Regions from separate parts of the Homo sapiens genome. Here region 2 is linked to region 1. Evidence: fine-mapped expression QTL. A gene starts in region 1. The other region holds a variant in brackets. All regions are shown on one strand. Distances are between the middles of the regions. Region 1 holds the start of ADGRB3 (adhesion G protein-coupled receptor B3). Region 2 overlaps ADGRB3 (adhesion G protein-coupled receptor B3).

Region 1 (5,540 bases):
TAAATGACACTGCTTTTGTTTGTTTGTTTAGCCTTTGAGCTGATAAAAGTGATGCCAAGTTAATTTTAAAAGTCTTTAGGCTGCAGTCTCTTCCACTGTTCTGTAAACAGAGACAGACATACAGACATATAGATAGTTAAGAGTTTTCATGCCTTTGCCTGGGTCTTCTCTGAATCAAAGGATAAAACCCTCTTCCTTCCCATTGCATAACACACACCAACGCATGCACACCAAATCCAGTGACCGAAGTCCCTGAAGATAGATCTGCATTTTCCAGATTATAATTCAAATTCTATGTCTTGATATAGGCAAACACAGCCCCAACTCTAAATCTCTATATAGCAGCAGTTTAAAATAACATCAGAACTGCTGGGACCATCAAAACAGTGTTCTCTGTTTCAAGCAAATAGCTCAATGAATAATGCATTTTCTTCATGAGAAAATAAAGCCAATGAGCATTTAAAGGTTAAAAAAAAACAGAGAAAGTTGTAAGAAATTCTGGAAATAATTTCCTTTTTTTTTTTTTTTTTTTGGTGTTGCACTTTGCAGGCAATGCAGGTCTGCGCAGTGTTCTTCAGGATAGAGTGTAGGCGTTGAGAGCCAATGTGACAATAAGTGTCTAAATTAGGAATTCCATCCATGAAAGGGGACTTCATTTTATAATCAGGAACTCAAAAAGAGGTCGTATGTCTTTTCCTAATGAAATTGGTACTTTTGCTTTCATTTATTTGACAGTGCATGTCTGCAATGCCGTGCTCATCAATGATCAGAGAGTGAGGAAATAGCTCTGAATTCACTTTAATGCCTGCTCAAGAGAGCGCACTCAATATAATGCTCTTTATTTTTAATCAGTCTGGAGTACACAGTCTTATTTTGTTCTAAATAATAAAAAATAAATCATTACCCTCACCCCCCTTTGGACTGCAGGGCCCGTTCAAAAAGCCGTGTTTCCCTCTTAAAGAAGGGGTGGGGGCGGGGGCAAAGGCTGGCCACGGAGGTGTCAAGGATGTTTTATTTATTTATTTATTTATTTATTTATTTATTTATCTCTTGCTGAGAAGCAAACCAGCATTGAGTTTAGCTATTCTCAAAACTGATTTTCTGGGTGACACTTTAGTTTAGTCGAACATAGACGGCGCCATCACTCCACAGATTTTTCCCCCCAATAGAAGACCCACTGCCTTCTCTTAACTTCCTTTTAACCTAAAATTTTCCCCTCATAAAATTACCCCAATCACACAAAACTGCCAGATTTTCTAGGTCTCTCCGCTTATTCCTTCTGACCCAGCACATCTCTTGAAAACCAGACTTCTCTAACTTTTCAACTGCGGCGTTTAAGTAAATGCAGACAGTCGGATCTGCTCACAGCCTCCCCATCCGCCAGCAACAGCCTTTCCTTTCATTTTCCTCCCTTCTCAAACATTAAGCCCAAAGCTCCACGGTGGCGACCCCCGGCAGAGAAAAGGTGACCCCTGGACCCCCTTCCTTACCTTCCACTCCGAAAGCTCAGGGAGGCTCTTGCTCTAAGACACCAGCACAGGCACGCGTCCCAGCAACAGTGACGGAGAGACTCCCCTTCGGTCCCAATCACCGTTGCCCATTTTCCCCGGCTCAGCTTCCAAAATCAGGATTTATTTTTAAAAATGCATACATACGAAAAGCAAAAGGTGGGGGGTGGGAACCAAAGGGGGGTCGATGAGAGAGAGGAAAAAAAAGCCAGCAGGAGCCCAGAACCTTGCGCCGTATCCAACTGAATCCAACCTCCAAACCGAGGGGGGCTAAAGGGAGGGAGAAGCCCCCCCAAGGGAGACTCTAAGGAACCCCCCAAAATGTAAGTGGCTTAATAGCAAAGATTTGTTTCATAAAAGCTACCCCCAACAAACCAAGAAGCAAAGAAAGCGCTGAGACGAGAAGTGACCGGCGGCGGCGGCGGCTGCTATGGCAGATTTGTTGGGGCGGTGGGTTTATTACAGGAGTATTCGTGGTCGGATCGGAAGGCTCAAGCTTATGCTTTTTCCTCTTTCCGCTTTCCTCCCTCCTCCTCCTCCCCCCTGCAGGTACTGATGGACGGACGGCGACTAAGGAGAGCGGGGAAAAAAATCCTTGGCTGGTGATGTCGGAAAGCTGTTTGAATGCCCAGCGAGGAGGGAGGCGCGAGAGGGAGCGAGATAGTAAAGCTCTGTCTCGGGTGTGCGCGCCGGCGCGCAGTGCTCGCTCTCCCTTGGGCGCGCGCGCGGGGGGTGCGCGTGTCCCGGGAGCGCGTCCGCGCGGCGGCCTCCCGCGTGCTCGTGTGCGCGCGCGTCCCGGGTGCCGCGCGCCCTTCTTATGCACAGCTGCGGTGCGCCCCGCCGCCCGCCAGAGGCTCGGCTCGCGCGGCGCGGCCGCTGCGACTTCCTGGAGTTCTGCCTGCCGGGGGCGCGGGCGGGTGTGTGAGAGAGAAGGCGAAGGGAGCCGCGGGGTGGGAGAGGAGGGAGTCCCGGCGGGAGGGCGGGGGAGAGGCTGGCGGGAGGGGGGCTCCACGGAGCTCCAGCCAGGGCCGCGGTTCGCCTGCACGTCACGGCTACTCAAACCCAAGCACGTCCCGAAAGCGGTATTTTCTGCGTCTGGGAGGTTTTTGCATCCTCAGTTCCCACCGCTGGGGCTGGCGGCGACCAACTGTAAGAGAAACTCACTGGGAGGCGAGGCAGGGGGGTGCGGAGGATGGGAAGGCGACTCTGAAGGGTGGGAAGTGAATGCTGGACTTGATCGTCTTTCTCTTTCTTTCAGCGCAGACCTGTCGCAGCCAGAGAGCTGTCATTTCAGTACCGGGATTCAGAATTGATCCAGTCCGCAGCGGAGGGGGCACATCCCAGCTACCGAGCTGCTGAGTGTCTCTGGCTGGAACAATAGTATTTTTTTCTCTGCGAGGCTGCAATTAACATCTTATTTGTTCTGGCTCCATACAGGCTTTGTCAGGATCGCGGTGCGGCGACCGACGTTGGGCTCTTGCATTGCTTTGTGCTTGGCAATGGAATCATGGTTTCGGGGTCTAAACTTTTGTTTCGTTTTGTAGTCTTAATGTATCTGATTCTTTTTCAAGTTTCCCTAGTAACAGGTTTGGGGACGGGGTGGGAAGAAGCGAGAAAAGGGGTGAAGAGAAAAAACCAGATTATATAGAAAGGAAAAAGGGAAAAGGGATGTTTCCCCACCTTTTAATCTAACTATCTATCTGTCTGTCTATCTATCATCATAGATAGTCATTTTGCCTCCTGGACAGTTGGCTGACGAAGTGTCTGATAAACCAGCTTCAGATACATGCTACAAAAGGTCATTCGCCTCCTGATTATGTTTCTACTTGTAAACGCAGTTGGTGGTTTGCAAAACAAGTGCTAAAATAGTGCAGTGATGTGGTGGGAGGAAACCATAATGGGTAATTCATATAAAGTGCTGGAATCTTCGTAAGGGTGAGTTTCTCGAGCGGCAGGTGAAGTTGAATAAAGCAATTTTCCATCATTTGTTCCCCTCACTCTTGCATTTTTTTCCTCCGCTTGTTTCTCTCCCCTGGGGCGATTATGGATAGCCAAGAACACCATTTTAAAAGAGATTGATAGTGAAAACAGGAAGTTTATGGTCTGTTATCCACTGGAGTTGTTTGAAATATTAAAATTGGTCCTTTACTTCTTAATGCATATTAATAGAGTGACCCTCTTCAAGGCTTTCCCGTCTTAAACGAATGCCTGGGATAAACACTGTAAGGGGAAACAGTTAATAATTCCCCAGCAGGCTTTAACTATTTTCCCAGTAACAAATCACCGGCAAGAGAGCAGCCTGGGTGGCATTTTGGTTTTGTGTCATTTTGGTTCTTTACAATATTTTTTATTCATTTAAGGAAATGTTAAAAGGAAATAATTAGGGTTTATGTCCAGAACAAATTTTGAAACACCGTTTAAGCAACACATTTTCTTTTAAAAACAAAGAACATTGAGCAACACAAAGGAGAAAAACATTTTATTTATTTCAACTTCCCTAGAGATCGTAATTATGATTTTCGCAAGGCAATTTGGTCAGTTCTGTTACTTTATCCAGAGGAAAAAAAAGCATGACAGATGTGGAATAAAAACGGAGGAAAAAATGCTTTGGATGGTTTATACATAAAAAGGAAAGAATGTAATGTGAGGTTCAGTTATACCTCTATTTTGCATCTAGTGATTTCTCATATTATCTTGTAACACTGATTTTGATGTTTCTTAGAAATTCTTAAAGTCATGACACAGTGGCATAAGAATAACAGCTGAAAGGGACAATTTAAAAGCCTAAATCCTAAATGGAAAGGTTCACTTACTCCCAGGATCATTTATATTCAAGTAGAAGTCAGGGCAGGGTCAGAAAAGAAAGCCACCCTTAATAAAGCGCTTCACCCTTCACATTGTTTCTCATAACCTTCATAAATTGCAGGCTACTGAGCTGGCCTGATGATGATCCTTCTGAGATATATTTATAGCAGATGATTTGTGGATGATAACTACGCCAAGCAAGACACTGTCTCCAGTAACCCCAGGCTCGTCTGACTTCCTCAGGGGATTATAATAAAGAATCACAAAAAGAACCCTATATGGACAGTCTGGTCTCTGGACACTAACAACAGCACAATCCAAAGGCAAAGAAAGGAGGAACCACCTTGTTTCATGTCTGCAAGCTGCTCCATATGAAAGCATTGCTGACATGTTGACCCAACAGCAAAAAGAGAGCAGCAGTTTACACACCCTCAGCTCTCTGTCCTTTCCTTTCTATTGATGTTGGTCCACTTTTATGACTGAATACATATTAAAATCACCATTTCAAATTATAATTATCTGCTTTCATTGGTCTCTTTCACAAGTCTATGTCTATATTTATGTTTACATATATAAACACATATACACATATTTTATACATACATATGTATATGTATGCACGCATTATTTGTAAGTACACATACACGTGTGTGTATATATATGTATATGATATGTATATGTGTATTTCAGTTGATACACATATATTTGCTTGGGAAGTTTCACTACATTGCTTTGTATTTCTCTTTTATAAGGTAATGCATTTAATTCCAAAACTACCACATTAATTGTATAAATTGATTATTACATAAGTTTCCTTGATGATTTACAGAAGAACTATTGAGAGGTCAGTGTTAGCACATCAAAATATAGTCTGGTATGGCATTTTAAATTGACCCAGGTATCTAATATTAAAGCCTTTCAAATTTATCTCTCCTGCTATTATTTTATTAAGATTACTTTGGAATGATGAGGTTATAAGTGTGATTTATTTCTGTTTCATCTTTTTGTCTGTATGTGCTAAGTTTAGTCCCTCCACTTTGAGAATAACCCTATAATCCAGGATCATTGCTTAAAATTCAGTATCATTTGCAGAATTCTCATACTCAAATAAGAATGTTTCTAGAATATGTTTACTCAATTTTAGAAAGTATTTTCTCTTTCCTTCTTTCTGTCATAGTTTTTCTGATATTACTGTATTACCACATTCTAAACTCTGTGACTTGTTAT
Region 2 (5,000 bases), 130 kb before region 1:
CCTTTAATATGAGCAAAACATAGGTATATTAAAATTTCATGTTAACTTATTTGTAATAGGGGAAAAATCAATAAGCAATATGAATGCCTACCAAGGTGACATTAAATGAATAAAATAGGAGTAGCATGTCTTTTTCAATGATTAAAGTATAACAGTTAAAAGAAGTGGCCAGGCACAGTGGCTGATGCCTGTAACCCCAGCACTTTGGGAGGCCAAGGCGGGCGGATCACCTGAGGTCAGGAGTTCAAGACCAGCTTGGCCAACATGGTGAAACCTCATCTCTACAAAAATATAAAAATTAGCTAGGCATTATGGTGGGCGCCTGTAATCCCATGTACTCGAGAAGCTGAGGCAGGAGAATCGCTTGACCCTGTGAGGCAGAGGTTGCAATGAGCCAAGATCGTGCCATTGCACTCCAGCCTGGGTGACAGAGCCAGACTCCATCTCAAAAAAGAAAAATTTATCTCCTAAATGAACACATGTATGTGTATGTTTGTGAGTATCAGAAATATCAACTAGTTGTTATAGTATTAATTAATTAAAACAACCTAAATGACCACAAACAAGGAATGTTTTAAATGAATGTATGGAGTCAGGCTAAGTTTTAAATTCTGACTCTGAGTTTAATAAATTACTTTAAATCTTTAAACCCTATGTCCCTCCCTTGAAGTTTACAGAGTAATGTGATTAATAGATGGTTACGTGTGCTATTATAAATAATTCACTTAGCAGGTTTTTTGAGAGAATGTAGAATTTCAGCAAATGATAGGTGCTATTGTTATTACTATAATTCTTATTTTACTTTTTATGATTATGAGTCTAATTTTTTGACAATTTTATTTAGGTTCCACTTATCAGTTATTTTTATGAGGACCTTGCTACTTGACCTTAAGTATCGTATGACATTTATAATTTAAGCAAATATGTTTATGACTTATTTTATTGTTTTAATTTACTTTCTTTTACCTTTTCAAATAATTAATTTACTAGTCCTATTTATTCAACAATTCTTTGTTTCACTAATTTATTTGGTCACCTCTATCACTCTCTCTCTCTCTATATATATATATTCATGGTTGGACTTATGTCTATTTTGTCTTATTTTGATGCTTTATCTGTAAATTGCTAATTTAATTACTGTGAGTTCACAGTAAGATTTAGCTCTTAGTCAATCAAATTGCTCATCGTTACTCACTTATTTTAACAAAATATATAAGTTATTTTCACCTGTTAACATTTTCATTTAACTCCAGATTACAAAGCTCTTAAAAAGGGGATCAGAAAACTGAGAGAGAGAATGAGGAGAAAAGAAGAGAAAGTTAGGGAGAAAAAGAAGGGGGAAAAGAGAAGGGATTGAACAAGACAGAAGATGAGATGGTGGAGAAAAGAGTGGAAAAAGATGACCTTTAAAATACTGCATTAAAACTATAAAATACCTTGGAAAGAAACAATATTTGTACAATTATTCAGTTTTACCATTCAGGGACATTGTAAATCTCTTTGATATCTGAATATTTGTATATATTCACTACACGAAACTTTCATTTTACCTTAAGGTAGATTTTAAATGTAATAATATGGTTTAAATCATTATATGATTGATATGAATAAAAATCTGCCATTCTTATAGAAAATACTAGACAATATAATGGTCACATACAACACTTCTCAGTTAAACTTGAACTTGACATGCACATTATCTAATTGGTCTCATAACAATTTTCCATTTTCCATTTTCAATTACCATTTTTGAACACAGTGTAATGATGAGTAGAAAACCTAATAGTAAAACATATTTGCATTGTCCTGTTTAAAAACCTTAGACTTGATCAGAGGACAAACAAGTTTGAAACAACAACAACAAAAAAGCAGAATCTAAAGAAACGGGGCATGAGAAAACAGGTTTATGTAACATCACCTACAGCCTATATAATAAAAGAGAAAATACATGTCTGGCGCCTGCATATTTTGGAACGTAGCAGCATAATACTCTGTGCACTCACTGAAGTCAACCAAGCAAGCACCACATCGACACTGAACAAGCCTGCAGAGGACACCAAAGCACAACCTGTGCTACACTGACACATACAAAGAAATATGTAGTAACTGTAGAAGCCTAATTTAGGTTCAAAGTAGCACCATGGAATTAACTAGTCACGCCTGAGACTGCCTGCAAGGAGTTACCAACTGAAAACCTAGGTGAGTCAAAAGAAAGGGACAAATAAAGAAGTTTAGGTCATTTATATAAATATGTAAATCCAAGTGTGCTTGTTTGAAAATATTTAGGGCACTGTCTACATACTATCTATTATTTCTCCCTCTCTCCTTGTTGCCTTTCACCTGGAGACTTGGAGGTGGGGAGTTCCTGCCTTAACAGGGTATGTGATCCGAATTGGGACTGCAGGAATTGTACTGCTGTTTACTACCGTCAGCAGCTGTCCTGTTTCTTAGGATCACCAGGGAGGAGTGAGAACATCCGCTGGAGGAGGCAGCAGGAAAGGAT[A/G]TCAACAGAATCAACTTAATTTTTCCAGCATGGAAATAACCCAAGCCATTTAACTGGAAGACAACATTAAAAATGATACCAATGTATTTTAGAAATTATAAGTTTAGCAAAAGGAAAAATTATAGTATTTGAATATTTCCTTTTGGTTTCCACTATATGCCACATATCTAAATTGCATGTTGAATGCAGCTGACAAATTTATTCAGAGAACTGGACATGCTGCTATTATAGTGTCCTGTGGTGGGCTCAGTAATTGGACATTGAATCTAGCTAGAATTCATACCCAGTGACGTTTTGCTGAGGGTAAATGTATTCTGGCAAATGGCATGATTTTCTCTAGCTAGAATACTAAAATGGAGGCAGTCCACCTGTGTGGACAGCTGCTACTTCACAGATTCTTTGCCAGGAACCACCATTTAATAGAATTGTGTAGACATTACGTTTGTTGTTTTCCTCTGACAAAAAGCAAGATGAGTTGAACCTGAGTTTTTGCCTTGTCTTGTTTTCATAGCTTCTGTGATTTATCAGGAAACAATACTTGGTAATGTCATTTTCTTTGGTTCTGGTCAGAGCAATCCTTTGATACTTTATGAATTACTTATCTCACTTTCATAAGGCTTAACGTGGAAAATTAACCTCCCATACATTTCTAATTAGTTTTTAATGAATTTTAGCTTCCCTGATAGGAAAAGCTCTATCCAACTAGCTACTAGAAATTTAATCTGCATTACTGAAGTATATGACAACCACCCCTAGGGGAGAAATGTCCTTGAGTTGTGTGTATGTGTGTATGTGTATGTGTTTGTCATTTTCAGAAATAATTCACATTCTAAATGTTTACCTCCATCTTTGATTGCATAAGGAACTACCATCATTTGCAACGAATAAGTGATTTTCATTATGCAATGCTGACCATAATGTAAATTATACAATGATCAGAAGTACTGAATTGCTTGTATCTGCTTATGCTTTTAAGATATAAAAGAAATAGGTCAAACTAGCAAATTATGTAATTAAATGTAATTTTCCAAGTTAAGGGTACATTGGCCAGAATAAAACCAAAAATATAGTATCATACCCAAACTGAACTAAAATAACTTCAAACAATTAAGATATTATTTTATTTAATGAATAAAAATCTATGAGATTTTGTTAGGTCAAATTTTACAATATATGGTAATGCCAATGAAATAATTTATGCTATTAACATCCATTTTCTTCATCTATAGTTTTCATTTTTTTACCTCTCAATTGGCTTAGTTTCTTTCTTGTTTTTGAAAGAAATTTCATTTTTACATATTGGAAAGATTTTCATTAACACAAGAAATATTCTATATTTAAGTTTTATTTGAGTTTAAGAAACATTCACATTAAGGAAACTTTTATTTGAAATATCTTGCATTAAAAAAGAACCAATTTGATATGAAGAATACATGACCTCAATTTTATATAAAATCAGGCCATGTGAGAATGTAAGGGCAATTTCTAGAATAAGGAATGCAATGGCTTAAAGTTACACACATAGCATCTGTATTAAAAATAAAGAGACCAAGATAGGAATTAATAGTGAACTAAAACAAAAGAATTAACAGATATAATTAGTGAGAAGCACATATTTTGTTAGGCAATATATGTAAAATAATCTTTCAAGAACTGAATAAAATATTTAAAAGAAAAAAGTTCTCAAAACTATGTAAATGCTTTTGAACTGATAAATGAATAGCAAATTAGTTTAAATAATTTGGAATATGTTGATTATATTTTCTTTTCATTTGCCTCAAATATATGGAAAAATAAATGCTTTTTATTGGTAGTGAATGGCTATGTATACACTCTATATAATAATAAATAGGCCACAAACCATTAAAGCATATTTAAATATCCCATGTCTTCTATAATTTAATATCTACTATTTTCTCATAAGCAATGAGATTATCAAGGGAGGTTGCTTGCTTTAAAATACTTTATCATGGGTAGCCTCTTCCGATGAGGTGATCTTTGAAGGCTTTTCAAGCCCTCTAGAGTTCATGGCCTACCATTTCGTATTCTGGACACCTGCTAAATGTAAGTGCTCTTGAAATTGTGTGTGTTTGTATGCATGGATGTATAAAACTGCCAATCTCAGGAATCACCCTTTTGAGGAACAAAGCTGGTTGTAATTCAAAAAGGAATGAAACAATGTAGTTATCCTAAAGCAGTTTTTAGGATTGGGAGAAGGGTGGTCAGACAGACATAGAAGCAATTTGTTATACTACAAAGCTGAACAACATAAATGCCATATGCTATAAAAAGTGCTTAATGGGCACTATGGGAGGAATATTTAATCATTCATTTCAACTAGGGGCTATAAAAATGACTTCAAGAAGGAGATAATAATTCAGCTGGACTGCATGTGTATAGAACATTTTTCTGCACTGGCAAATAACTGTGATCAAGAAATGTGAATGTATGTGATATCCTGGGACTTAACCATAGGACACATGGGGGAATACACTAG

What was found. PIP is the estimated chance that this variant, and not a neighbour inherited with it, causes the effect.
Region 2: its variant is the best candidate, but not a certain one, in a credible set for the expression of ADGRB3 in spleen (GTEx, PIP 0.74).

Annotation. Positions count from the first base shown.
Region 1 is chr6:68,631,951-68,637,490 of GRCh38, reverse strand. ADGRB3 (adhesion G protein-coupled receptor B3) reads right to left here and starts at 2,209. Exons shown (of 32, transcript NM_001704.3): 1 at 1,491-2,209; 2 at 1-100. LOC127898563 reads right to left here and starts at 1,601. Exons shown (of 1, transcript NM_001414704.1): 1 at 1,524-1,601. The coding sequence starts at 1,601. The coding sequence ends at 1,524. ADGRB3-DT (ADGRB3 divergent transcript) reads left to right here and starts at 3,167. Exons shown (of 2, transcript NR_125872.1): 1 at 3,167-3,306; 2 at 4,435-4,828. RefSeq lists a silencer at 2,261-2,470.
Region 2 is chr6:68,758,556-68,763,555 of GRCh38, reverse strand. All of the region lies in intron 3 of ADGRB3 (adhesion G protein-coupled receptor B3), which reads right to left. Among named protein-coding and RNA genes, the nearest start is that of ADGRB3, 130 kb to the right of the region's middle. The variant A/G (reference allele first, on the strand shown) is at 2,504.